7 separate regions of the Homo sapiens genome follow, and regions 1, 2, 4, 5, 6 and 7 are each linked to region 3. Evidence: fine-mapped expression QTL. A gene starts in region 3. Each other region holds a variant in brackets. All regions are shown on one strand. Distances are from middle to middle.

Region 1 (4,000 bases), 220 kb after region 3:
CATTAACGTTCTTTTCTTTCAGAATGAAGAACTACCTTTAGCATTTTTTTGTAGGAGAGGTCTGATGATTGATGAAATCTCTCAGCTTTTGTTTGTCTGGGAAAGTTTTTATTTCTCCTTTATGCTTGAAGGATATTTTCACTGAATATATTATTCTAGGGTAAAAGTTTTTTTCCTTCAGTACTTTAAATATGTCATGCCATTCTCCCCTAACCTGTAAGGTTTCCACTGAAAAGTCTGCTGCCAGACATATTGGAGCTCAGTTGTATATTATTTGTTTCTGTTCTCTTGCTGCTTTTAGGATCCTTTCTTTATTTCTGACTTTTGGGAGTTTGATTACTAAATGTCTTGAGGTAGTCTGGTTCAGGTTAAATTTGCTTTGTGTTCTATAACCTTCTTGTACTTGGATATTGATATCTTTCTCTAGGTTTGGGAAGTTCTCTGATATTATCCCTTTGAATAAACTTTCTACCCCTGTCTATTTCTCTACCTCATCTTTAAGGCCAATAACTCAGGTTTGCCCTTTTGAAGCTACTTTCTAGATCTTGTAGGCATGTTTCATTCTTTTTTCTCCTCTGTCTGTGTATTTTCAAATAGCCTGTCTTCAGGCTCACTAATTCCTCCTTCTGGTTGATCAATTCTGCTGTTAAGAGACTCTGATGCATTCCTCAGTATATCAATTGCATTTTTCAAATGCAAAAAGAACCTAGGCCTGGACTCAGGGACCCCAAGAAGTATATAATTCCTGCTTGATTCTTTTTAATTATTTCAATCCCTTTGTTAAATTTATCTGATAGAATTCTGAAATCCTTTTCTCTATTATCTTGAATTTCTTTGAGTTTCCTCAACACAGCTATTTTGAATTCTCGTTTTGAAAGGTCACATATCTGTTTCTCCAGGATTGGTCCCTCGTGCCTTATTTAGTTCCTTTGCTGAGGTCATGTTTTCCTGGCTGGTCTTGATGCTTGTAGATGTTTGTCAATGTTGGGCATTGAGCAGTTAGGTGTTTATCGTAGTCTTCACAATTTGGACTTCGCAATCTGTGTTATTCTTCTTGGGAAGACTTTCCGGGTATTCAAAGGGACTTGGGCCCCAAGCCTAGTAATGCTGTGGCTCTTGCAGACTCACAGAGTTACCACCTTAGTGGTCTTGGGTAAGATCCAGAGGAATTATCTGGATTACTAGGCAGAGACTCTTGTTCTCTTCCCTTAGTTTCTCTCAAACAAATGGCATATTTCTCTCTCTGTGCTTAGCCACCTGGAGCTGGGGGTGGGGTGATGGAAGCACCCCTATGGCCACCACCACTCAAATTGCCCTGGGTCATGCCTGAAGCCAACACAGCACTGGGTCTCACCCAAGGCCCACTGTAACCAGTACCTGGTTACCACCTATGTTTGATCAAGGCCCTAGGGCTCTACAATCAGCAGGTAGCAAAGCCAGCCAGGTTTGCATCCTTTCTTTCAAGGCGACAAGTTCCCCCAGGCCCAAAGTGGGTCTATAGATACTGTCTGGGAGCCAGGGATTGGAGTGAAAAAAAAAGCCTTAGAAATCTACCTGGTGTTCTATTCTTCTGTGGCTAAGCTGGCACAAAGTCCTTCCCACTCTTCCCTCTCCTTTCCACAGGCAGAGGAGCCTTTCCTCATGGCCTCCACCACCACTGGCCCATGGGGAGTTCTGCCAGACCACTGCTAATGTTCCCTTAAGGCGCAAGGACATCTCAGTCAGCTTGTGGTGAATACTGCCAGGTCTGGGACACAATCCTAGGGCCAGTTAGCTCCCTTCTGTCCCAGGGCAGGTCCAGAAATTCTGTCCAAGAGCCTAGGCCTGGACTCAGGGATCCCAAGAGCCTGTTTGGTGCTCTATCCTCCTGTGGCCGAGCTAGTAACTGAAGCCAGTACATCTTAGAGTCTCACCCAAGGCCCATGGTCTGTATTCCCTGGGTATCACTGTTGGTTATTCAGGGCCCAAGGGCTCTTTAGTCAGCAGGTGATGAGTCCTGCCAGGACTGGGTCCTTCCCTTCAAGGTAGCAGGTTCCCTTCTGGGCCACGGTGTGTCTAGAAATATCTGGGAGCCAGGGCCGGGAATGGGGACCTCATGACTCTGCCCAGAGTCCTATCCTACTGTGGCTGAGCTGGTAACTAAGATGCAAGACAAAGTTGTCTTTACTCTTCTCTCTTCTGTCCTCAAGCAGAAGGAAGGAGTCACTTTTGTTGCTGCCAGCTGTGCTGAGTGGGGTTGGGGGACCAAGCACTCCCTTGGTCACTTCGACTGGTGTCTACCTAGGTC[A/ACGCACTG]CTCCAGTCCACTGGCTCTAAGCCCAGCACAGCATCAGAACTAGCCTAAGACATTTTACACTGTTTTGGTAATCATAATTTACTGGTAGTGGTATTAGTATTGTTATTGTTATTCTGAGGCTGTTGGATGTATAATGTAGGATAAAGCAAATGAATAATTAGAATAATTATGGTTCATTCTAATTCTAATTCTATTATTTCTGTGTTCTTGAGGACCAGAGTTCTCAGTTCAAAAGAATGGAAATACATAGTTGTATAGAAGAGGTAAGGTTGTAGATCTGGACTTGAATTTGAATTTTTAATTACATATATTCTCTCTCTCTCTCTCTCTCTCCCCTCACCCTGCCCACCTCTGTTCACTGAAAAAGGCCTAGAAAGTATGACCAAGAAATACAATGAGCCTCTTATCCCCAGATGTGGTTGTGATATACCATTTCCCATTGAAAGAAGGCAGGGCATCTTGGAGAAATGGCTGATCCCAGGTCTGGGCAGAAGATGTACAATATAAGCCTGGAATAGGTCATGTAAAAGGACTTAGAAGCCAACGTAAGAGGATTCCCACTAGCCGAAGATGACAACTTGAGCTTTAATAAGGATAGTCGTTGCAATGGATTGGAACCGATGTTTAGACATGGTCTAGTATATTTATACTCATGAGTTCATAATGCCATTTTAAAAATTATCTAATTGGTTATCTCCTGAGGATGGCCGGGAACCACTTTATCTTGAAAACTGAGTAAATACAGGAAATGAGCACTTTTCTTGTCACTACTATTTGAATGTATTATTTGAATAACCAAATAATAAATGAGGGGCAGCATCTCTGCATAAAATTATTCTAGCTGATAAATGAAATCTAAATGATTTATGGATCCAAAGTCTAGACATTAGACATTGAGCACCAATAGCTGCTAATACTAAAAACAGAGCAAAAAGCAGGCATTGTGTGTTCCTAATGAAGTGCATAGCTTTGGCTAAAAGAATAGAACTTGAGCCTGATCAAGCCTCAGAATCCAGCTGTCAATTTCAAGAATACAGAGACAGTTCAACGTGTTGAACTGCACGGAAGTATGCAGGCCACAGAATCCAGACTGGGAGAAATTCCATTGGGCAAACGAACAAATAAATTGTAAGGAAAGGAAAGAGATGAAGGAGGAATCCGTAAATTAAAAGAGAGTTAGAAGACATAAAGTTTCAAAAACTAGGCAAGACTAGTGTCTAGGAATGCACTTGGGTGATAAATCATAAAAGAAAAAAAACCACAAGGAAGTGATTACTCTAAAAGTCAGGGAAGTTGTTACTTTTGGAGAGGAGGTAGAGGCTACGGTTGGGATGAGGACATGGGGGGCTTTCTGGGTGGTTGGCAAATTTCTATATCTTAACCTGCATAGTTATTATGAGGTGTTCACCTTATAATGATTCAGTAAACCATTTATATTGTGTGTGTGGTTTTCTGTATCTATGTTTTATTTTACAATAAACAGGTAAAAAAATCAAAACCAGAAAAAGTGATGAAAACATAAGCGGAATTTAAAGCCTTGGGAATGGATAATTTCATTTGGGAGAGAGGATAGATAGGGCAGACAGCCCAGGACTGAGCCTTGGGGGCACTCCAATGTTTGAACGTCTGGTAAGAGGAGATTGAGAGGGAGCCGCCACGGAGGCAAGAAAACAAAGTGGTAGCTATAAAGGAACAGATGAATGAGATATCAG
Region 2 (4,000 bases), 350 kb after region 3:
GGCCAAATGAGGGTTTGAAACCAGGACTGTCTTATTTCAAAACTTGTGCTCTTTCTAATACATGCTACTGTTTCCTGATGAGATTGCCACATTGCACAATGTGGCACCAAGGGGCACCATTCACATGGTCATCAGTATAAATGGCACCTGGGAATTGAACAGCATAGTGGCTAGGTATCCTAAGATCAGAGGCACGATCTCCATTAAATAGCAGCTATTGCAGAGGAGAAATGACGAGGACCTAACCTGGAGGGGTTGGAAAGGAAGGGACAACTTCGAGAGACATTTAAGAGATAGATTTGACAGAATTGGCAGTTGACTGGGTGTGGAGTTAAGAAATAAGGGAGTTGAGGCTGTCTCTGAAGTTTCTAGCTTAGGTGCCTGGGAGAATAGTAATGCCCTTATTGGTTAGGAAGGCAAAGGGGAAGGGGCTGTTGGGCAGAAAACATCACGGAATGCCACTTCCCCTGCTTACCCATTTGACCTGGGTTAGGAGATGAACTTGATTTAAGGGTACCACCTGGACCTGTGCTTTGGTTTCTTGCTTTTCTACTTAAGGTCAAACTCAGAAACAATCTGGGCCATTAAAAGTTCTTGTGCTTTTAGCTGTAGTTGACTAACCTGGTCCTGTCCTCAGGATTGACTAAATCCCACCCCCAGTGATGGGACTTGCCTGCTTAGCCCAGCTGAACATGTCCCCGGGGCCCTGCTTCCCCTAGACCTCCCTTGCAGAAGCTGCCCACAAGGTCTGCCCAACCTTTCCCTTATCCCTCCATGTTCCCAGACACCAGACACTAAAGCTCTACATTTCTTGGCACTGGACCCTGTGTGGTATAAGGCATGGTCGGCCCCTTGCAGCCATGGTAATCTCACAGTTTCCCAGACCCTCTCTTCCTCTCATCCTCCAACAAAACTACCTGAGCTCTAGGACCTCCACCTGTCTGGGGCCATGCCCAACTCAGCCCCCACTCAGAGCCTGTCCTTGCTCCCTGGCCCAGGCGATGAACAGGCTGTAGACCCATAAAGCTTCCTGCAGCTTGCAGTGAATGGATGCCTGTTTGTAAACCAGGACATTGGACATGGCACGTCTGCTGCAGAAAGTGAGGGGCGCCCTTCCACGTAGCTCTCAAGCCATTATCCGTGAAGCATTCCTTCATCTCAGGGTAACATCTGCCCGTATCCACTTGTGGCTCTGACCTGACCTTCAACTATAGCTATTTGGACCCTTACATACCATTGTATACACAAAGATTTGCACACATGTATGCACACATGCACACACACACACACACACACACACACACTTTTAAAAATGTTTTTCATGTGAAAGCCCAGTGATGATAAAGCAAGCTGTCAGGATTTAAAAAAAAAATACAATAATGCAATTCACAGAGGACAGTCAGTGGTTAGCACAGCTTCTACTCATGTTTTTACACCTTCTGGAGGTGTGACAGGGTGTGCTTGGTGTTAGAGTTGGCCACAGTGAGACCCCAAGGCATTAAGATGTCTTCAATCAACTGTCCTCAAAACAGCGTTGACCAAACAGCTTTTAGGTACCAAGCACTCTCTAGATGCAGTGTGAACTTCAAAAATGAGGCAGACATATCTTTGCTTCCTGGAAACACACAGCCCCCTGTAGAGAGAGACCACATGTGTGAACAAACAATGCAACATGGGGTCCATCACAAAGCCACCCACACTTGGAGTAGTGGAAGACCTGGTCCTGGTCTCTGCCCCACCACTTGGCTTTACCAGGTCCCATTTGCTCTGTTCTTCACCCTCATTCCCTGGTTTGGGACAATGGGAGTCGATTCCTGTTGGGAGCAGGGACCCTCAGGATATCCCTTCCTGGGATATTTATAAGAAGAGGATCAAGGTCCCCATGAGAACCTGTTCCACCCGAGGGACTGTTCCTTTCTGTCATTGTATGAAGGTTACAACCAGCCAGGCAGTGTGGCTGGGGCGGGGTTGGGGAGGCA[T/C]AATGGGAGCCTAAGTGAGCCAGGTGTGCATTCTTAGGTAGGGCTCAAGATGGGTGGGCAGCGGAAACTGGGTGAACTTTAATCCCTTCCATTCCTGAAATGTGTTCGTTTTATGAAATATCTCTCTCCGCAAAATGTCTCCACCACTTGACTTTGGATTTCTAAGAAATGTTTCTCTGAATAGATGTAGAGTAGCATTTCCCAGATTGCGTTCTGAAGCACGCCACTGCCAGGCACTCATGGATTTTGGAGGAGAAAAAAAAACCCATAGTCCTGCTTTGTTCCATGGTCAGTGTGTTTGGGAAGTTCAGGGTTAAACAAAATTAAACCAGCTGCTTCACTGCTGGACTCTTTTCAGCCTTTAATATGCTAGTGATTATTACGAATCTTGAAAAGGCAGATATAATATGCATTGTTTTCCAGCCTTATCTGAGCATGGAACCTTGTCTTCATGAAATTTCTGTTGGTGTCACCTGGAAACCTAATGCCCTGAGGAACACACTTTGATAAATACTGGCACATAAGATGTTCATTGTTTGTAAACTAACGGTGGTCAGTTATTTCCCATATTCTTTTAGACAATAGTCTTCAATAGCAGCAGGAAAGTCTTAAGTTTAGATAAAAAGGAGAATTTCCTAACTGTAAGGATTCTTAGATACTAGAACCTTAGAGTGTCGTGGGAAATGGCAGTAAAAGAATGTGCCCCTCCCCCTTCCTTGTCCTTCCACAGGCTATCCCATGAGTCATTATAAATAGAATGAATTATCAAGGAAGCTTCTGGAATCTTTTTATCTTAAGAGGCCTTTGAAAGTTGCATAGAATTGTGGGACAAGAAGGTAGGAATAAAAAGGCAGGAAGACAGACTGGCTGACTTCTGGGTAGACTGTCTCTAAGTGTCTGTAATTAACTCATTCATTCTTACTCCGCCCAGAACATGCATTTGAAGGGAATACCTTTCTAACTTGTGGAACTGAAGAGGCAGAAAGCCAGAAGCTACCCCAGATTTCACGGTGGTCTTTCAGTAGCTGTCGTATTTGCCAAATAGGAGGCTAAGCTTTACATGCATCTTACTTGTTTCTTGAAATAACCTATAAGGTTGCTAATATTGTTTCTTTTTAAAAAACAAGGATCTGAAGCCCAGAAGGTTACAGACCTTGCCGAAAGTCAAACAGCCAGTATGGTAAGGAACCTGGATTTGAACACCAAAGCCTGAATCCACTATATCACCCCAGCTGCCACTGTGAATCTGTGGACATCCAGAGCCTCAGGGCTTCCTTAAAATGAGCCTTCATCCATCGGGCTCTGTGTGTGGGGAGAGGATGGAGTTGGGCTGATGTGTCTGCCCACAATGATAAGGAAGCCAGGGAAGAGGACATTTTCCAGCCCCTGCCAACCATGCCCAGCCAGGCCCCTTGGTTTGCCCACAACAGTCTGGCTCTGCCCCAGTCCCTGCACCCTTGCCAAATGCATCTTCTTCCATTAGCCATCTGCCCCCTTGTGCCTACCGATAGCCCACAGCACATGGGCAGCTGCCCTGTTAGAGAGATAGGAGATAATATCAGTGTAGGAATCAATACATTCTCTGGCATGTCCTTTTTCCCCTAATGGGAATGTGGCAGGATCCAAAATACACTTAAACCTTATCCAAATCCACTCTGTCAGGCATTGGTGGCTTCAAAGGAAGCTTGGTACCTCCAGTTTGCACGTGTAAGCTAATGAAGCTGGGCTCTGGGTAGGTGAGCTGAGGCCTGTAGCCTGAGGCCTTGGCAGTGTCTGGAGCTGTGTGGCAAGGATGCAAGGGTGGCGCCAGGGGCCTACAGCAGCTAAGTCTTCAGAAGAGGAGACTGCCTGGAGGAAAGCAATCTTTCTTCCTGGCCAGAAGGAAAGCCTAAGGCACTTGCCATCTGTCATGTCAGGCTGAGTGGCTGACGGGCTAGTCCTAGGGTCTGGAAGTCCTGTGTACCCCCAGGGTGTGGATCTGTGTGCAAGGCACTTGGAATGAACATGAAATGAATGTGATT
Region 3 (4,000 bases):
ACAGGGATGCCTCTCCCTCCTCCCAGCCCCGTACACTTTCTGCTAGGCTTATGCTGCTGTTCCGTCCATTTTGCACAAGAGAGGGGGTTCCAGAGTGGGGGAATAGAGTTGGAATTAGAAATTAGTTTTGTGTCACTGGCTTACAGGTGCTCTTAAACCTTAACAGGTTTAACATCCTCTGTAAAATGGGACTAGTGTCACCTCAACACCTACCTTGCAAAGTTGATTATTGGGAATCACACTTGTGTAAGCGGTATAGTCTTGGCAAACAGTAGGTGCTAAATAATGTCTGGCTGGAGGAATGGAGCCCTGTTCGCATATGGCATTCATCCAGCCAGTGTGTGGAGCTGGGGGAGGGATAGGCACGACTCCTGAAGCAGGAGGCCCAGTACGCGCCCAGGCTAGCCAGCCAGCCCTCCCCGGGGAATGCAACGTCCAGAACAGTCTATAGTCCCGATAGTATGCCTCATGCGTGAGACCTGACCAAGGACGTCTGTGAACAAACCCTTCACAGAGAGCTTAATGAGATTGTGGGAGTGCTGGTGGTTGGGTGTGGGGATACAGGCCATTGAAGGTGAGAGGGCCGGTGTGATCAGTTTGGTGGTCTGCCCAAGACAGAGACTCTGCGGGTTGGATAAGAGGGAGCTAATAGGTTTGAGGGGGTCACGTGTCCCTTGCCCTCCCTCCTATTCCCCCAGGACTCCCTCTTCACCCAGCCTCCTCCTAAGGGCAACTCTGTTGTATTAGGATGAACCACACGGTGTACTGAAATGAACCGCGCGTCAGAAAGCGGGGTTGCCTCCTGGGTCCTGCCACTTGCTCCCCGTGTGTTCTTGGCCTGGTCCCTTCACCTCTCCTAGCCTCAGGATCTTCATGCGTAACATGAGATCCTCCCAAGATGTTGGTATGTATACAACAGTGCTCTGGAATGACTCCATGCAAGCTGTTGCTCTTCAGTCTCCTGAACAAGGTGCTCTTGTCTCGTCCCATGAAACCTCCACCTCTCCATCTTCCGCACCACTGAGGCCGCAGTCTCTTCTAACGGGGCACGCTCGTCCCCCGCGCTGTTTCCCGAATGCCACCAGGGGGCGCCCCTTGCTCGCTGAAGCCGCCGGGCTAATAACTCCTCGGGGCCGGGGCGGGCTGCCCCTTTGCGCAGGGCGGTGGAGTGTGCGGGCTGCGCCGGGTTCCCCACCTGAGGTCCGTACCTCGCAGAGCCCGCTTGGCCGCGCGCCCCTAGCCTCTGCCGGGCGCCGCTCCCCAGCCGGGCGCCTCTCGCTCGGCCCCGGGCCCCCGGGCAGCCGCAAGTTTGCCCCCGGCCGCGCGGACCCGCGCCCGCCCTGCCCGCAGCAGCCCCCGCCGTTCCCGCCGCCCCCGCCGCCCCCGCGCCTGGGCTCCCGGGCGACGCTCCGAGGGGCGCTGGGGGGCGCGTGCAGCTGCCCGCGGGGCTCCGGCCCGGCCCCGAAGGGGCGCCCCCCCGGCCGGCCGTGCGCGGGGCCGCAGCAGTTCCCCAGCTGCCCGCCGGGCGGCGCCCCGCGCCTCGCTGCGCTCCTCCCGCGCTCCCCGCGCCGGGCTCGCTCGCAGCCGGACACAGACTGCCTTCAGCTGCGGGCGGATCGGGCTGGAGCCGCCACGGCTGCTGCGGAAGAGGAAAAACGGCCAACAGCAGCCCCGCGGCCGGCCCGGCAGCGCCCGGCCCCCGGCTCAGCCCCCGGAGTGCGGAGCCGACCAGGTAAGGGCAGCGGCCCCCCGCGGCGCCCCCGGCCCGCTCCCTGCGCTGCCCCCGCGCCCCCGAGTCCCCTCCGCGCTGGCCCTTCCCGCACCCCGACTTCTGACGTCTCCGCCGCTCCTGCCCTCGGGGGCCGCGGCCCCGCACCCCTGCCCCGGCCCCCGCCCCCGCGCCCTCCTCCCCGCTCCCGCCTCCCGCCAGCCCGGTCCCTGGCACTTCGGTCCCTGCGTCTCCAGATTCGCCGCCGAACCCCCCACCGCTCTGCTCCCGTAGTTCCTCCAGTCTTCACCCCGGTCCGTCTCCCTCCCTCCGCATCCCTTCCCCGGGCTCGCGGTCCTCCCGCTCTGGTCCTCCCCCTCCCCGTGCAACTCCCAGCCCTGCCTCTGTCCCCTGCAGGGATGACAGCCCCTTCCCAGCCTGGCGCGTCTCCCCTACACCTCGTCACCCTCCGCTTCTCCCAGCGCCTCTGTTCCCCGGCTGCAGCCCCCCATCCCGGCTCAGCCTGGCATCCCACCAAGCCCCCTCCCCCTTTCCTCACTGCCATCTGCCTCGACTGCCCCCTGCCCCTGCACTGGACTCGGGCCACCACCACACCCCCCCACCCTGCACACCGCCTTGCTTGGGGGAACCAGCGTCCTATCAGAAATGATCCTCTTTCCCGGGGAGAATGGGGCTCCCACCCATCCCACCCTAGTTCATCCGAGTGGGAAGTGAGGGAGAAACTCTAGAGACCTGCAATGGGCGCGTGATGGGGGAGGGGGCTGGGGCGGAGGGGGAGGGGAGCTGATTTAGATTCTCTTCAGTGAGGACTGGCAGAGCTGTGCGCTCCGACCTGGCTGGGGTGGAGGGCGTGCAGGCGACAGCTGGGACAGGGGGTTCAAGGCACTGAGAGCACCTGTGTCTCTTTCCCTGGCTCCCTTGAGCTGAGCAAAGTGAGGGGAGGAGTTGGAGCCTGGGGAGAGTTGGCTGAGGGCCTTGGGGTGGTGGAGGAGGCGGCCGAGGGGGCTGGGCCCCGGGCGCCTCTGGCCCGTCTGCCTGGCAGTGGTGGGGCAATGCGGGCCGAGCCACTCCCGGGCTGGACCTTGGGCTGCGTGGCTCTTGGCATCTGTACTTGATGCTGCCATCTTCCTCTTGGTGCTGTTGTCTGGTGATGCCACGCGGTGCCACCTCCCTGCCTCCCTCCAGTGGCTCTCCTGGGCATGTCTCCCAAGGGTCTGGGTTGTCTGGGAAGAGGAGGGGAGCTCTGAGCACAGCTGGGCCCTTTTGCCAGGCAGTGGGCAGCTGTCAAGACCAGGCCAAGAGGTCTGAGGGCTGGTCAGGAGGACTGAGCCCTGCCAGGAACAAAGAACTACCTTCACTTTCACTCCCTATGGGTCACCTGGTTGGTAGTGACACTTCTAGGAGCACCGGGAAACTGCGGGCGTGGTATCTCCGGGGAGAGAGGCCGCCTGGGTTGGTAGTGGGCATCTGAGAGACAAATCCGGTCCTGCCTGACTCCCTGACTGTCTGTGCTCGCGTGGTCAGGGGCGAGGGGCTTGTCGAGGTCCACTGTGTTCCGGTCCCACCAGGGATGGCAGCCCCTGGAATTCCACTGGGCGTCATCATGCTGGCTTTATTTGCTGAAGCTGCAGCTCAGGCTTCATCATTAATCAGGTTTATTATTTTTCTCACTGGCCAGATGTGTTCCTCAAGGTCACGACCCTTCGGAGAGTTAATCTAATATGCACACATTACAGTGTCTGGGTTTGTTTAATTTTCCATATTTTGTTCATTCCTTGTGGCCCGGGCTTGCCCACCAGCCTCCCGCCTGCCTCACCAGCTCCACCCCTCTGTCCTCCTCTGGACCTGCCACCTGAAACCCAGAGGCAGCACTGGTCCCTCCGGGTGGGGAAGAGGTGGATGCTCGGGAGGGGAGGTTGAGAGGGGATCTTGGTTTTCTGTGTTTTTCCCATCCCCCTACCTGGGCATCTTGATCGGTGGCTGCTGTCTTCCCCAGCAATGAAAATTCTTCCGAGAGCCTGGGTCGGCTTCGTGGTCTGATTTCCACTTTGGTTTTCCCTTAGGATGGAGAGGGAACTTTAGTACCGGGAGAGAGGCAGAGACTCTAGGAGAAAGTCCCAGCTGCAGGGAGTCAGGGCATCCAGGAGAGAGGAGCTCAGCTGCTTCTGAGGTGGTTCTCAGCCATCCAGAGATGGAAGGGAGGACAGGGGGACCGGCCCTGGGTTGGGGGAGAGACTGCTCAGAAGGCAAGAGAAGCAGCGAGGCGGAAGC
Region 4 (4,000 bases), 110 kb after region 3:
AGCCTCTGTGAAGTAAGAAAGGAACACGTTCATGCTGAGTCTTGGGTAAGGTCAGGAAGGCTGCTTGGGGTGGGCACGGTGAGTCTGCAGGGTCGGTGGATGATCTTGACAACCTTCTCCTTAGTTAAGCCTTTCACACAGTCCATTTTCTCCAATCAGCTGAGTGTTTGAAGGCCTGCAAGGCCCCCTGCTAGAGAAGATCAGGGAATCAGGCACTTGGAGCTGTCAGGGAGAAATATCTAAATCATTTGAACAGGTAATAATAGGATAGTGTAAGCTTGTTTAGTGCAAGGAAACTCGTTGTAACAGAAACCCCCTCCCAGCTCATCAACTTGCAGCTAAGGGATTTTCTGTGAGGTAGACACAAAGAAGACTTCCCCAGAGCCCTGGCAGTGAGGCAAGGGAGGGTCTGGGCCATCAGGAGCCAGAAAGAGTGAAGGTCCTGGCATCCTCAGGGGCTTATGAAAGACTATGGGAGTTGGGTTAGTGTGCTTTCACCTTAGACTGGGAGTTCCAAGATGGAGTCTAGTCTTATCTCAAGCATGTACTAACTATGTAAACTTGCCAAGTCACAGTTCTTTGGGCCTTATTTTCTTCCTTTCTAAAGTGAAGGCACTTAATTGCATGATTTTAGTCAGTTTTGACATACTGTCATCCGTAGAGACTTCTCAGCTGCAGCGGCAGTACAAGGGGGTCTTTGTAATGATTAACATGGGTATGGGGTATAGCTTGTGCTTGTCTTTATATATGTCATTTATTATTATTATTATTGTTTTAATTTTTGTTTTTTTGAGACAGAGTCTCACTCTGTCGCCCAAGCTGGAGTCCGGTGGTGCAATCTCAGCTCATTGCAACCTCCACCTCCTGGGTTCAAGCGATTCTCCTGCCTCAGCCTCCCGAGTAGCTGTGACTACAGGCCCCCGCCACCACACCCAGTTAATTTTTGTATTTTTAGTAGAGACGGAGTTTTGCCATGTTGGCCAGGCTGATCTCAAACTCCTGACCTCAGGTGATCCACCCACCTCGGCCTCCCAAAGTGCTGGGATTACAGGCGTGAAGCACCGCCCCCGGCCTTATTATTATTTTTAACTGTGACAAATGTGCAACCACCACCAACACTGGGATGTGGTACATTTAATTTTCACAACAACCCCATGAACTAGGTACTATTACTACCCCCATTTTTCAGACACAGACAGGAGGCTTAGAGAGGGTAAGTGACTTGCCCCAGGTCACACTGCCTTTAGGGGGCAGAAGTGAGACACTTATCTGGGTAGTTTGACTTCAAAGCCATGCCTTTAACCACTGGGCAGACTTTTCTCATGTTTTTGAGCAAGACTCACAGCAAGAAATACTTTTCCAAGCCTAACCCTGATTGTCCACAGATATATGCATATCAAATGGAAATACTTTGTACTGCATGCCCTGATAGTTCTTATTTTCTTTGCTTTTGGCTTTCTCTTTTGGGAGTGTCATTATTGTATTAGTTTCCTGTGGCTGTGGTAACAAATGACCGGAAGCCA[A/G]GTGGCTTAAAACAGCAGACATTTATTCTTTCACAATTCTGGAGGCCAGAAGTCTGCAATCAAGTTGTCAGCAGGGCTGTGCTCCCGCCAAAGGCCCTAGGGAGAATGCGTTCTGTGCCTCTTGCAGCATCTGGTGGCTTTAGCTGGTCTTTGCTGCAGTCTCTGCCTCTGTGGTCACGCTGCCCCCTCCTCTTCTCTGTGTGTCTGTCCTACGGATACATGTGGTTTACTTAGGGCCCCCCTGATAACCCAGTGTGCTCCTCCTCTCAGGATCCTTTGACTTAATCACATCTTTTGCCATGCAAGGTAACATCCAGAGGTTCTGGGAGTTAGGTCATGTGGGTCGCCTTTTAACCCACTACATTTATGGACTTGTGAATTTTTACAGATTCAGTGTATTTCAGTCAGTTCTCCTAACTATTCTTTTTGCATCTCAAATTGTCCCATCTTTGGCCTGTGGGAACCCCTTGGAGCCAGCCCCTGTACTCTTTTAAATTTTATTTTATTTTTCAGACAGGGTCTTGCTCTGTTGCCCAGGCTGGAGTGCAGTGGTGTGATCATAGCTCACTGCACCCTCATTCTCCTGGGCTCAGGTGATCCTCCCCGCTCAGCCTCCAAGTAGCTGGGGCTACACTCAGCTAATTTTTTATTTTTATTTTTTTGTAGAGTATGGGGTCTTGTTATGTTTGCCAGGCTGGTCTTGGCCTCCTGGGCTCAAGTGATCCTCCCGCCTTGGACTCCCAAAGTACTGGGATTACAGGTGTGAACCACCGCACCCGGCCCCCTGTACTCTTTAGGTGTGACCCCATCGGTCTGTGAACAAGCCCATGCTCTCTGACACAAGATGTCACAGGCTTGTGTGTTCCTGACCCCCAACCAGGAATTCCTCCAAGTCACCCTGATTTCTTTCAGTAGGAAATGACATTTCTGTTATTTTCCATTCTCTTCTATTTCATTAAAGAAAAACACTGATTACAATCTACTAAATTGATTTCACGGACCTACTTATGGGTTGTGACCCATAGTTTGAAAATCACTGTCCTGGGCTATTTTGTCTTTCTTTACTTTCTTCATAAATTTAGGAAATTCCTTCCCATCAGAAAGTGAGGTACCCTCAAAGGCAGGGTCACGTGTTCATCCACTGGCTCCTCCATGGTGGCAGGATGGGGTCTGCACACATGGGGCCTGCACCATGCAGCCTGCGTCCCATCCAGGGGCCCTCAGAGCTCCTGCTGCCCTCCGTGGCACCCTGCTTCTCTCTGGGCCCTCCCCGTTCCTCCTCCTCCTCCTCTTCCCCCTTACTCTTCTTCCTCCCCCTTCCCTCTTCCTCCTCCCTCTCCCTCTTCCTCCTCCCCTTTCCGCCCTGCCTCTCTCCATCACTGCCTGGACTTCATTTTGCCATTCTAAGAGGCTAATGTGAAAATTGCTCACAGATGGCATAAACAATATGGAAAAGAGCCTCTCTCTTCATTAGAGTAACACAAGATAGTGTTTTTAAGTGATTAAACTGTTATAGCAATAATTATGTTGAAATCTAAACATCTCATCACACTACTTTAACCTCTCACCAAGGGCTCTTGAGGTCCCCTTGGGGTTTGGCAGGGGCCACCCCAATAGAGAGCTCAAGAGCGGACTGTCTAGGCCTTGCTGGACCTTCCCCATGGGGCCCCATGGGGCAGAAATATCTGAGTAGTGTTGGGACCTCCATTGGTGCCCCCTCCCTGTAACCAGATGTAGAGGTCCTGGCCCCAAAGCTAGGCTCTAGCTGAATTTTTCTTTGGTGGCTATCCCATCCCCTTTGGCCTCCTCCTTGTCCCATAGCCACTCTCTACTCTGAGTAGCTGTAGGTGCTCCTAGAGGGCTGTCCTGCTTGCCCCTCCTTGCTGGCCACCCCTTGTTCTCTCAGCACCCTGCCCAGAGTCAGCTGGCACCGAGGGAAGAAAGTGGGTGAAGTCCTCTGCAAGACACAATTGCAAGACAGACACTTCATCTCGTACCCTGCCGCGGAGTCTGGGCATTCTCTAGAGCACCTTGGGAATTGCTCTCAACCTGTTCTTCCTCTTCCTCCATTAGCGTAGATCCTCATTTCTTTCTTCCAGGGCTGTGAAACAGCTCCCACCTCACCTTCTGCCCTTCAGCTTCTCTCCCTGCCTGCTGCTCCAGGAAAGGAAAGTATAGAAAGCTACACAGAAATAAAGACACCTTCATGTATTTGATTATCTTGGGGGGATGGGGTGCAGATTTAAGAGATTTAAGAGAGACCTAGAGAAGATGAAACGCACCTGGTATGAAAATTATAGACTAGCAATCATGCGCCTCATTTTAAATAAACATGTAAAAATAAGACTTAAGGCCGGGCGCGGTGGCTCACGCCTGTAATCTGAGCACTTTGGGAGGCTAAGGTAGGTGGATCACTTGAGGCCAGGAGTTAGAGGCCAACATGGTAAAACCCCGTCTCTACTAAAACTACAAAAATT
Region 5 (4,000 bases), 87 kb after region 3:
ACCCCTGGCTTAGTCAACGGCTGCTCCCAGAGCTGGGAACATGACAGCTTCATGCCAGGGCAGCCCCAGGTAGCTTTGTTCTTGGGCCCCTGGATGCCAGAGGCAGCTCCACTCACCTTGCGGGGCCGCTCCCTCTCCACCTGGGTTCCAATCTGGTTCTGCTCCTTACCTGCTGGGTGACGGGGCAAGTGCCTTCCCACCATGATGAGGAGATGATGTTTCCCGCAGAGGGTTCTGGGGAGGATGCAGTGAGATCATGTATGCAAAGCACCCCTCTTGGGGCTGCACACGGTGGGAGCTGGGCAGTTGCCAGTTCCCTCTCCTTCCTCTCCCTCCTTGGCTGACTACCCAACAGGTGAAGATCTGACCTGTTCTCTGACCGAGCCCCGGGCGCCCCCAGCTGAGCCCCGTGGCAGGCAGCAGAGTCTCAGTGTCACATAAAGGCAATTTCTCTAGCTGATTCTTTTTAAAGAACAAAAAGCAAATTGCCTCTCAGTCTTACTTGGCTGCCTCAGCCGTGCGCTTTGCCAGAGTGTTTGCATTCAGGGATCCGTGGGGGTCCTGAGGTGGTGGGCCATGCGTGCTGCCTGTTCAGTGCAGCCCCCCGCTTTGTCTGATTTCCTAATACAGTGCAGCATTCGAATTTTTCTCTAAGCATCTGAAAGCGAAAGGGAAATTGTGACTGTGGATGAGTCCCTTTTAGCGACCTCTGTGAGATCTCCCCAAAGTTGTTCTCCAGCCCAATTAGAAACCTGCCTGACTTTCAGGAGCGGGAGTGCCTGCCGTTGAAGACTCCTGTTCCGAGCCCTAATTACTGCTTGATGGAATGAATAAAGACGTCATGTTTTCTGCATTTTACTTAGAGAGTTGCTGATGCGGTGAATGTTGGATGAAACGTCTCTTTCCTCAGAGAGATTAAAAACTAAGTGCCTCAGCGACAGAGCCAAGCGGCTGTTTTAACAACAGACTTCCCCTCCTGCGCTCCCTTGGCCTCGCAGTTGGAGCTGGTCTGGGCCCCTTCTGTTCTTTCCACTCTTCTGGAATCAAGGTGGAAGATGCCTTGACCATCGAATTTGACTGATTAAAAAAGAGACACAAGCATCTGTTGAGCCCTTGCTGTGCATCCGACTTTTTCCATCCATTCTCTCATTTCTTTCTCACAGCAGCGTTATGAAACGGCTTGCTGTGCCCCTTGTGCAGATGAGGAAACTGAGGCTCACAGAGTTAGTGTCTTGCCCAAGGTCATCTGGATAGCAGGTAGCAGAACGGTGGTTTGAATTCAACCTCCAGTGCAGAGTTTGTGGTCTTTCTCCATCGGCTCCAGGGACATTTCCTGGCCTGCGTGGTGGAACCTGCCCACCCCCTGAGGAGCCAACCAGTTCTTTTCCTTGACAGAGAATGGCACGGTATAGTGGTTAACTCCCACCATATGACAAATCTCCCCAAAACTTAGTGGCTCAAGACAATGAACTTGACTATTATTGATGGCTCTGTGTTTGGCTAGATGGCTCCTTTGGTCTTGGCCAGGTTGTCTGGGGCTGCAGGAACTGGGATGGCCTCCCTCAGTATCAGCTGTGGCAAGGACCACATGGCCTCTTATCTTCCAAGAGGCTCGCCCAGGCCTGACCTCTTCCTCACACATTCTCCATGTCCATGTAGATGTAGATATCCATTCTTCCTCTTTGAAAGTAACTGAGCTG[G/C]CTTGGACCCTGTCTATCTTGCAGAAGAGGGAAGCCTGATGCCTAAGTACTTTTTACATCCTCTGTTATTTCATGTCTGTTAATGTCCGGTTGGCCAAAGGAAGTCATATGTCCAAGTCCAGACTCAAGGGATGGATAATGGACTCCTTCTCTTGATGGGAGGGGCCAAGAAGCCCCATTTGAAGGGGTGTGCCTGCAGGAACGAGGAAGGCTTTGTGGTCATTCTGCGTTACTGCAAAGGGTAACACCCACTCTTCAAAGGCCATTTCACAGCTCCTGGTCCTGTAAACTAAGGGTGTGGAGAGGGGGCTTACTGAGCTTCCACATCTGGACGGGATATCACGAGGCTGTGCCAGACAGATGCCTCATTTTGTTTGTTTGATGCGTGTGTTGCTGTTTTTTAAACACGCAGAGAATGTGAAAACACAACTTCCCTTTTGAATTGATCCTTGTTCTCACAACTAGTCATTACCTTTCATGATTGTTATTAATATTTCCCTGGACCAGCTGCTGCAGATGAACCTGGAGTGCATGTTTGGAGTTGGTGGTGGGGAAGGTCCCTGTTCTGGGCTTGAGGCTCCAGGGATGGAGGAGGGGACATTGGTGCCCCATGCCTGCCCTCTTCTCAGGCTCACAGCATGCCCTGGTTTCTCCACCTGGACTTAACAGAGTTTCCGCCGTTATCTGGGAGATGAAGACCAGAGGGTTTTAGGCCCTTTGAAGGAAGGAACGGTTCAGAAGAATGAGTCAGTGATGGAGTCTCTAGATGTCTTGCCAGCTCCATCTCTGCTACTGTATTCTCAGCCCCCTAGCCTCCCTCTTGTGCTTCCAGGGATATAGTGCCCCGTTTTCAGTGCAGAAAGTACTTTGATCAGAGGTTTGTGAAAACCAGTTTCAAGGCTGCCAGCTTTGGGTATTCCTGGGGTGTGGGCCTCAGTTCCAGGTTGCCCTGAAACTCTCCTTTCAGCAGGGAGAGAAAAGGCAGTAGGAGCTACAAACACCTTGGGCCTTGTCCCCAAGCTCAGCCTTCTTGGGTGACTCACCCGAGCAAGGAGCAAGTCAAACTCAGCACAAGGGAACCCCTGCCCCAGAGCCCGTGACATAAAGGTGAAAGAAAGGCTTTTGGTGTCTCTTGCAGCCAGAGTATGTTTGAACATTAGAGGCTGGTTTTAGGTTTGACGCTTTCTCATGCTGGCATGAGCACCTAGCATGGGGCCTGGCGCATCAGAAAAGCTCTAGAAGCGACCTTGCCATCCGCCCACTCTGCAGGTGGCCGAAGCCCTTGGGTGGAAGGTTCCAGGGAGAGTAGTGCTGGCAGCCCTGATTCAGGTGTGTTTGGGGAAAGGGAAAGGTGAGACCTTCAATGTGGGAGCCCCTAAGGCCTGCAGAAAAATGAGACTCTTAAAGCTGCTCCTCCCACAGCGGGAGGGTACCTCCACCCACCAGGCTTCCGGCTTCTCAGCGTGGCTGATTCCTGGTGCACTGTCAGCCTTTATGGGTCCCATTAGGGCAAGAGAGTAAGAGGTTTTATGGGAGTTTTTCCCCCCTCTGTCTTAAAAAAAAAGAAAACTAGAGTTTTCCTGCGAATTAAACAAATGTCAAATCAGCTTTGGCTGCCTGAATGGCAGCCTTTCAGAGGCAGTGCCTGAGGCTAACTCAGGGAAATGGGGTTCCTGCTCTCTGGGCCTCCCAGCAAAGCCCACCTGGTTTTTGTTCTGCTCTTTGAACAGAGGGCTGAGGAGGGATGCTGGTCTTTGTTTTCCTCCCACAGTCAGGACTGGAGGAGATCCTAGCCAGGAGTGCAGAGGCAGGGGTCTGGGGACCCTCTCCCCACCAGGAAGATCTTCAGGGGTTCTGGGAGTCCCTGGCATTACAGGCAGCATCACAAATATGCATGGAAAGTGAAATTGGAAGGGGTAAATCTGTAGCTTTGTTCTGATTCTCAAAGAGGTCAGTGACCTTCAAAAAGATTAAGAACTCATGAGAGGCTGGGCATGGTGGCTCATGCCTGTAATCCTAGCACTTTGGGAGGCTGAGGCAGGCAAATCACTTGAGGCCAGGAGTTTGAGACCAGCCTGGGCAACATACTGAGATCCCATCCCTACAAAAAATACAAAAAGGTGTGGTGGCATGCGCCTGTAGTTCCAGCTATTCAGGAGGCTGAGTGGGAGGATCACTTGAGCCTGGGGAGATGGAAGCTGTAGTGAGCCGGATCGTGCCACTGCACTCTAGCCTGGTGACAGAGTGAGACCTTGTCACAAACAAACAAGCAAAACTCATGAGAACTATTACAGCACCCA
Region 6 (4,000 bases), 230 kb after region 3:
TGTTTCTCTGAGACAACATGTTTAGACATCTCTTATTTCAACATATACCTATCAGAGCAAAATTCTGCATTGCAATACGGGGCACTTTGGAGTCCCAAGATCTAGGGGTGAGTGTGTGTCTCGGACTTTCTGTCCTCAGGTGACGATGCTCAGTGTCAGTATGCATATGCAGTTTCTAGCATTTGTGATAATTTACGCTGATCTGGTACAATCACACATCTGTCTAATATCCAGAGGGCGGGCCTAAACCAGAGGTGACTTTTGTGGCTCCAAACAGAGTCCACTAACAAGATCACACACAGACCAAACCCATTACCCTTGCCCTAGGACTGCACTCCAGCCAGCTGACCTCACATGCCCCAACCTCATCCACCAGGGCAGCCCATCTGGTGGCCAAAGGCTGTGTTTGGGAAACACAGATGGCTGGTTTGCATTACACGGAACAGCTTGGGATGTGGACTACATGGACAATTGGCTGAACTTTTGCAGATTTAATCAGATGTTTGGCATCACATAGGTGTAGATTGACTCTCCTTCCCTTCTGAGCCTACTCTCCACTTCAAGAATTTTAATAAAATGCCTGAGCCTGGCTGTACTCTACAATCGACAACTGTTATACCTGAGCATAGCATGGGGTTGTAGTTAGGCTGCTGGGAAAGTCATATGCCGGCCATGCACCTGCTGTTGATGTGAAAACCAGCAGAAGCTAGACAATCACAGCCAGCCTTTTGCGGTGGCAGTAGCTCCCAGCCCCTCCTTCCCTCACCCCCGCATGAGTGGCAGAGCCTTCAGCTAGAGAAAGGATAGGGACTGAAGCATCCCCACAGGAACCTGCTGACCCCACATTACCCAGAGCTGTCCCGTGGCCCTGTCCCAGCTGGGACTCTGAGCATCATGCCTCATCATGCACTCCACCCATATAGGGCCCCAGCTGGCAGAGGGGAGGTGAACTGCCAGGAAGTGATCCAGCATTGCCTGGTAACTTGGGAGGAACTATCTCTGGCATCTGCCTGGGATCCTGGTCTCCCTGGTTTGGTCCAGAGGAGTTTACCCCAGTCTCTGTGCTCCCATGGAGCTGAGTGACTAGTGAGGAATGGGAGCATTGTCCCTTTGCTTCTCTTGCCCATCAGTCAATCCACCTCCCGTGAGTGCCTCAGTTAGTGTACCTGTAAAGTACAATGGCCTCTCCCACCCTTCTCCTGGCCATGTATCTGCATAATGCTTTATTATGGGCCCTCTCCTGGGTCATTCTCACCTTACCATAGAGACGAGGCATGTTTATTTGGTTTTATTTGACGCAAGATCTGAGACTGCACTGAGTGTCCAACCCTACCTCACATTTCTGGGGTCTTCCGGCTGGACCAGGGACCTAAGGGAGGAGGGGCCTCAGTAAAGCTGTGGATAGTGTGTGTGAGGGGCAAGTTTCTGGCACCTGCTCCAGAACCCCACTGCTGTGCTGTCTCTCTCGTTCGTGTAATTGCTAGCACTGAGAATTTACCAGGTGTCAGGGGTCTTTCTGAGCCCCTGCATGCATTAACTCATTTACCACTCACAATATCCTCCACTTTACAATTGAGGAATTAGAGACACAGAGAAAGAAGTTAAGAAACTGGCCTCAGTTTACACAGCTGAGAAGTGGCAGAACAGGCCGTGTGCTTTCTTTTTTTTTTTTTTTTTTTTTTTGAGACGGAGTCTCACTGTCACCCAGGCTGGAGTGCAGCGGTGCGACCTTGACTTACTGCAACCTCCACCTCCCAGGTTCAAGCGATTCTCCTGCCTCAGCCTCCCAAGTAGCTGGGACTACAGGCACGCACCACCACGCCCAGCTAATTTTTGTATTTTTTAGTAGAGATGGGGTTTCAACATTTTAGCCAGGATGGTCTAGATCTCTTGACCTC[G/T]TGATCCGCCCGCCTCAGCCTCCCAAAGTGCTGGGATTACAGGCATGAGCCACCATGCCTGGCCCTGGCAATGTGCTCTTAACCACACTGTGCAATGCTGCCTTTCTGCAAAAATAGCAAATGTGTAGATTTCCTTCCTCAGGCGGCCTTCTATTCATGTGAGTGCCCCACAGGGTATCTTAACTTTTCAGGTTAAATATAAAATGCCTTCTGTTTTCATTCATGGATATCAGTATACATGCACGCATACATGCACAGGCAAGCACAGACACACTCACATCAACCAATTGTCATTACCCTGCTCTTCATTCATTCATTCCGACCAGCAAAGCCCAGTGGGCCCCTGTGGGGTAAGATGCAGTCTCTGCCCTGGGGGAATTCTCTGGCTAAGAGGAGACATAGATCTGTGAATATGCAATGGCTCTAGGGTAGCTGCAGCAATATGGGGACACAGAGGAACAAATATGATCTGGGAATTTGGAGACTGGGCTCACATCTCAGGAATTAAGGAAAGGTTTGGTCAAATTTACAAAAGAAAAACAACCCCATAGTCCGGGCATGGTGGCTCATGCCTGTAATCCCAGCATTTTGAGAGGCTGAGGTTGGTGGATCACCTGAGGCCAGGAGTTCAAGACCAGCCTGGCCAACATGGGGAAACCCCGTCTCTACTAAAAATACAAAAGTTAGCCGGGCATGTTGGTGTGTGCCTTTAGTCCCAGTCACTTGGGAGGCTGAGGCATGAGAATCGCTTGAACCTGGGAGGTGGAGGTTGCAGTGAGCCGAGTTTGCGCCAGTGTACTCCAGTCTGGGCCACAGAGCAAGACTCCGTTTCAAAAAAAAAAAAAAAAAAGTGGGCAAAGGACATGGACACTTCAAAAGAAGATATACATGCAGCCAACAAGCATATGAAAAAAAAAGCTCAATATCAGTGATCTTTAGAGAAATGTAAATCAAAACCACGAGATACCATCTCACACGTTTCAGAATGGCTATTATTATTATTATTATTATTATTTTTTTTTGAGATGGAGTCTTGCTCTTTCGCCCAGGCCGGACTGCAGTGGTGCTAAGAATGGCTATTATTAAAAAGTCAAAAAATAGCAGATGCTGTCGAGGTTGCAGAGAAAAGGGAACACTTATATACCGTTAGTGGGAGTGTAAATTAGTTCAACCATTGTGGAAAGCAGTATGGCATTTCCACAAAGAGCTAAAAGCAGAATTACCATTTTACTCAACAATCCCATTACTGGGTATATACCCAGAGAAATAGAAATCATTCTACCATAAAGACACATGCATGTGAATGTTCATTGCAGCACTATTCACTACAGCAAAGACATGGGATCAACCTAAATGCCCATCAATGACAGATTAGATGAAGAAAATGTGGTACATATACACCATGGAATACTGTGCAGCCATAAAAAGAATGAGATTGGCTGGGCATGGTGGCTCACACCTATAATCCCAGCACTTTGGGAGGCCAAGGCAGGTGGATCATGAGGTCAGGAGTTCGAGACCAGCCTGGCCAACATGGTGAAACCCCGTCTGTACTGAAAATACAAAAATTGTCAGGTGTGGTGGCGGGTGCCTGTAATCCCAGCTACTCGGGAGGCTGAGGTAGGAGAATTGCTTGAACCCAGGAGGCGGAGGCTGCAGTGAGCAGAGATGACGCCACTGCACTCCAGCCTGGGTGACAGAGCAAGACTCTGTCTCAGAGAAAAAAAAAAAAAAAAGAATGAGATTATGTCTTTTGCAGGAACATGGATGGAACTGGAGGCCATTATGCTCAGCAAACAAATGCAGGAACAGAAAATCAAATACTATATGTTCTTATTTTTAAGTGGGAGCTAAATGATGAGAAGTTATGAACACAAAGAAGGAAATATCAGACACAGGGGTCTACTTGAGGGTGGAAGGTAGGAGAAGGGAGAGGAGTGGAAAAGATAACTCTTGGGTACTGGGCTTAATACCTGGGTGATGAAGTAATCTGCACAACAAATCCCTGTTATGTGAGTTTACTTATGTAACGAGCCTTCATGTGTACCTCCAAACCTAGAATAAAAGTTTTTTTTAAAAAAGAAAAGTTTTTGTATAATAGA
Region 7 (4,000 bases), 52 kb after region 3:
TAGTGAAGGAGCAGGTAAGTGTATTTGGGAGGCTAACTTAGTCTCAGATGGATGGCAGGGAGCTGGGGAGGGCTTCCTGGAGGAGGTGATGCCTGAGCTGAGCCTAGAAGGATGTAAAGGAACCAACCAGAGGAAGAAGGGGAGTTAGGGTATTGTGAGGCTGGTGGGGGCTGGGGAAGAGCTTGCACACACAGAAGTAAGTGAGGATTTGTGTTTGGGTCATGGCAAGCAGGCTGGAGCCAGGGTACAAGGGGAGAGAAGAAGCTGGAGACGTGACAGTGATCAGTTCATGGGGGGCCTTGTATACCAGGCTAAGGGTGCCAGGAAATGGCTGGGGAGATTTACACAAAAGGGAACAGGTTGAGATCCTCTGGTGGTGGTAGGGCAGTGCTAGTGAGAAATGTGTGCAGCTTGGACTAATTTGAGAGACTTTCTAGAAGGTAGAACCCACAGGACTTAGTGATGATTGGGCATGGGGGGTATCGTGTGGAAAAGGGAGGAGCCAGGTCAGGGGATCAGAATGGGCAGCCAGCCCTCTTCTGCAGGGTCCAGCTGCCTGGTGGCAGTGGGGGACCCTATTTTGGCCTTCTGCGGAAGCATGACGTCCAGTGGGCTGTGGATGTATGTGACTGCCGAGATGTCAGTCATGCAGGCTGGCACCCAGCTTGCCCAGCTTCCAGAACGGGGATGGTGAAGTGTGTCTTTCCACTTCACTGTCTCCCTGGGTAAAACCCGGGAATCAGCTCCCTTCTTTTGTCAGTTGCAGAGGAAGTGGGCTCTTTCTCTATTAGACATACTCGCAGTGTCTAGTATCAGCCTCTTTGTCCATGTGGGATAGGGATTGCTTGGCCGGTAAGCACTGTGTTTGGGTGTACATCTCCTAGGATACTAGCATGTGGCCACTTGGAAGGCGGCTGCCTAGCAGCCCTCAGCCTAGCTTCAGGAGAGGAACTATGGGATCCAGCTTCTCTGGGCTCCAGAGAACAACTTCTGGGGCCTGGAAGAACCCTGTGCCCAGTGACAAGCTTGTAAAAAGAGAGAAACAATCCCTATATTTTTGGTCCCTGGGAAGGAAGTAGGGTGGACAGCAGCCTTAACTTTCTGGAGCAAAATGTGAACTTTTGAGAGCTGAAGACCAAAAGCGGGTTCAGCTTTTGAACTCGTTTTTTTTAAACCAACCTAGGCCAAAGGCTGGGAGAAGGCAGCAGCAGCCAGCCCTGTGTTACAGGTGGGATAGATGGGTGCTTTGCTCACGGTCCAGCTGGTCTCCCCGCAGCTGCTAGACCCCAGGAACTTCTGGAGCTCCCGTCCTTGGAGCCTCCTCTCAGGAAGTTAGATGTGGCACTCAGGGTTAGTTGGCTCTGAATTCCCCTCCACCCTTCCCCAGGTCATTCAGAAGCCTACCTCCTGAGCTACCCAGGGCTCTGGAATCTCCACCTGCTGTTTCACTGCTGTTTGCACCAGTTCTGGCGCCTCCCACACCTGGGGTCGGTTGTGCCTCCACGCCCGCTCTGAGCACAGTCACCGTCTGGGCCCCCTCTCCAGTGACACTCCAGGCCTAAACATTATTTTCCCATCGCGGAGGAGGTGTTCCCGGTGTGTCTCATGAATTTAACACAAGCTGCCGGAGAGCCTTTGAAAGGTTAGGGGGTGGGTAGGGAGGCAGTTTATGTAGTGGGGAAGTTGGGGTGGGGGAGGCAATGTCCCGGAGGAGTGGCTGGTGGCCTGAGGAAGGGCCCGGGCGCGCAGGCGGCGGCTAGCGCTGGAGCCCCAGCCAGCTCCCTCTCCCCACGTGCGCGCTAGGCCTTGGTTACTCTGGCAACTCGCCCCGCTCAGACGGCACCAGGCAGCTGAATCCAGCCCCTTGTTACGGGGGAAAATGCTCTCATTGAAGCGCCGGAGCGCAGCTTCTGCCTTTTATTGCAAGCGGCGCCACCGG[A/C]TTCCATTTGTAAACTTATTAGTGTGCGCTCGCGGGGAGGGGGCTCGGGAATCCGGGCCCGGGCAACCGGCGCCGCATGCTAATCAGGGGGCGCCCGCCCCCGCTTTGCCCGTGGCCCTCCTTTCCCGATTCCCCGACGTTTCGGGAGGAGTGGGGTCGGAGCGCAGGGCTGGGAAGGGTCTTAGGACCCAGGAAGGAGACGGGTGCCTCCCAGAGAGGACCCCATCCCCTCCGAGGTCCGGGCGGCTCCCGGCCTCTCCCTGGGGTGCCGTAGCCCCCCTCGACCCGCCTTCCCGCAGCCGCAGTCGTTCGGGCCTGGAGGTGGCCGGGCATCGGTGCCGACGCCGCGAGGGCAGCGCCCGCGGCGGGAATACTAATGCACCCTAAAGGGCACGGCCGCCGCCGCAGCAGGTAATTAGCTGGACCGCGGCGGAGCGCGCGGAGGTGGCTGCTGGCTGCAAGGACTGCGCCCAGCCTCCGCCTCGCCCCTCGAGGCTCCCGCGTGGGCCGGCGGGCAGTGCGTGGGCCACAGGAAGCGGGCTGACTGGACCCGGCTCAGGACTTCGCACAAGGGCAGCTCTTTGTTTACAGCTCCTCTCCCAGCTCCCCGCTTTCCTTTCGCCCACCGCCTCCCTTTTCCGGCGATCGGCTCCGCCGGCTGCGGGGGGGTGGGGGGGGTGGGGTGTCCTGTGTAGCCGCCCACCTCCTGTCCCGGCCTCGTGCTCCCGCTGGGGACTGTTTGCGGTGAGTCTGTCGCACGCACGTCAGGGCCGAGGCAGTGATGCGGGGCAGCGTGGGAGGACGGGCTGCGGAGCCCGCGTCATCCTGCCTGTGGGGAGCGCTGTGCCTGCTCTCCTGCCAGCGCGCCCAGCTGTCCCGGCCGCCGCCACGCGGGACTGCCTGCCATGTCGCCACCGGCTGCTGACCTCATTAGGCCTCATGTCATGGAGGAGCCGGCGATTAAAGGACTCTAAGAACCAGAGCTAAGTGGCTGCAAAGATACTGACAGCCTCCCTAGAAGCCCACTTTCCAGTGAGCTGCTGCATCCTCTCCTCCTTTAATTAGCAGGAATGCGCTGGACAAGTTGTTACAACTGCAGGGAAAACGATAAAAGATGGCTTTGTATTAGTGTGGCAAATTTTATTAAACCGGGAGAAAGGGTAACTGAAACATGACAGCCGTGTGTGTAGTGCCTCCTGAATTTGTAATAACCCAATCTTGTTCTGAATCATCCCTGTGTTGGCTAAAGGAATATAAAGCGTTTTACAGATCCAATATTGTACGAGGTACAACAGAACACAGCCGAGTGAGGAAGGACGACAGGTAGGAGAAGGGGGCCTCCAGCGCCCGGCAGCGCTCACGGTTAATGAGACCGGAGTAGAAATACAGGGTCTGGCTGCAGGCTTTGCCTCACTAATTACTCCTGCCCCCTGGCTCTTTTCTACATCTCAGTCTTTCCACTTATAATTCAGAGGTAATACCTGGCCACATGAGAAAACTTAACTAATAGCACGTTAGTTGCCAGGGAATGGACAAAACCATCTTTTCCTATAGAGAGTGAAAAGCAAGACAGGAAATCTAGGAGAAAGAGTTGAGACACACGTGGTTATTCTGGGCTTGGGGTGTGACTTTGGTATTAGGCTGGAAGGATGATGCTATGTTTCCTACCCCTTGAGCCGTGTTGAAAGTAGGCGTCATTGTCTCTAGGATAAAAATCTGAGCCAGGCCCACAGAGGTTAAGTTTTATATCCAAGATACAGTAAATGGCAGCCTGGATTTGTGCTTTGCACTTTAAAGCCTGTTCTTTGCCTATTACCCTAGGCCTCAGATTTTATTTGACAAATGAAAAGGCAAAAAATTCTTCATTTGTAGAGGCCGTTTAGTGAACAGTTGTAGCTCTATGAGCTGTAAGGGATTTCCAGAGATCTTCTGATCTAGGCAAGATATTCTTTATTCTGCTTTTCAGAGGAAGTAACTGGAGTCCAGAGACGTTAGGCACCCTGTCCAGGGTCATCCAGCCAGGAAGTGACTGAGAAAGGAGGCCAGACTTCAAATTCCTTC

Direction of the effects. Alleles are on the strand shown, and positions count from the first base shown. SD is a standard deviation of normalised expression in the study named. Not every link is listed here.
For the expression in skin of the gene that starts at base 1,593 in region 3, allele A in region 1 goes with a lower level than allele ACGCACTG (moderate effect, 0.57 SD a copy in TwinsUK).
As copies of T replace G in region 6, the expression in sun-exposed skin of the gene that starts at base 1,593 in region 3 goes up (small effect, 0.28 SD a copy in GTEx).
For the expression in tibial nerve of the gene that starts at base 1,593 in region 3, allele A in region 7 goes with a higher level than allele C (small effect, 0.38 SD a copy in GTEx).

What was found. PIP is the estimated chance that this variant, and not a neighbour inherited with it, causes the effect.
Region 1: its variant is the best candidate, but not a certain one, in a credible set for the expression of GRIK4 in skin (TwinsUK, PIP 0.69).
Region 2: its variant is the best candidate, but not a certain one, in a credible set for the expression of GRIK4 in whole blood (INTERVAL, PIP 0.81).
Region 4: its variant is the best candidate, but not a certain one, in a credible set for the expression of GRIK4 in lung (TOPMed, PIP 0.72).
Region 5: its variant is the best candidate, but not a certain one, in a credible set for the expression of GRIK4 in thyroid (GTEx, PIP 0.63).
Region 6: its variant is the best candidate, but not a certain one, in a credible set for the expression of GRIK4 in sun-exposed skin (GTEx, PIP 0.85).
Region 7: its variant is the best candidate, but not a certain one, in a credible set for the expression of GRIK4 in tibial nerve (GTEx, PIP 0.63).

What each region holds. Positions count from the first base shown.
Region 1 is chr11:120,734,162-120,738,161 of GRCh38, forward strand. All of the region lies in intron 3 of GRIK4 (glutamate ionotropic receptor kainate type subunit 4), which reads left to right. Among named protein-coding and RNA genes, the nearest start is that of GRIK4, 220 kb to the left of the region's middle. The variant A/ACGCACTG (reference allele first, on the strand shown) is at 2,288.
Region 2 is chr11:120,856,228-120,860,227 of GRCh38, forward strand. The region is part of intron 8 of GRIK4 (glutamate ionotropic receptor kainate type subunit 4); the gene reads left to right. Among named protein-coding and RNA genes, the nearest start is that of TBCEL, 170 kb to the right of the region's middle. The variant T/C (reference allele first, on the strand shown) is at 1,980.
Region 3 is chr11:120,510,156-120,514,155 of GRCh38, forward strand. GRIK4 (glutamate ionotropic receptor kainate type subunit 4) reads left to right here and starts at 1,593. Exons shown (of 21, transcript NM_014619.5): 1 at 1,593-1,732. RefSeq lists silencers at 1,204-1,283, 1,464-1,663.
Region 4 is chr11:120,621,128-120,625,127 of GRCh38, forward strand. The region is part of intron 1 of GRIK4 (glutamate ionotropic receptor kainate type subunit 4); the gene reads left to right. Among named protein-coding and RNA genes, the nearest start is that of GRIK4, 110 kb to the left of the region's middle. The variant A/G (reference allele first, on the strand shown) is at 1,524.
Region 5 is chr11:120,597,095-120,601,094 of GRCh38, forward strand. The region is part of intron 1 of GRIK4 (glutamate ionotropic receptor kainate type subunit 4); the gene reads left to right. Among named protein-coding and RNA genes, the nearest start is that of GRIK4, 87 kb to the left of the region's middle. The variant G/C (reference allele first, on the strand shown) is at 1,701.
Region 6 is chr11:120,739,616-120,743,615 of GRCh38, forward strand. The region is part of intron 3 of GRIK4 (glutamate ionotropic receptor kainate type subunit 4); the gene reads left to right. Among named protein-coding and RNA genes, the nearest start is that of GRIK4, 230 kb to the left of the region's middle. The variant G/T (reference allele first, on the strand shown) is at 1,899.
Region 7 is chr11:120,562,376-120,566,375 of GRCh38, forward strand. All of the region lies in intron 1 of GRIK4 (glutamate ionotropic receptor kainate type subunit 4), which reads left to right. Among named protein-coding and RNA genes, the nearest start is that of GRIK4, 53 kb to the left of the region's middle. RefSeq lists enhancers at 2,173-2,753, 2,754-3,333 and a silencer at 2,353-2,622. The variant A/C (reference allele first, on the strand shown) is at 1,940.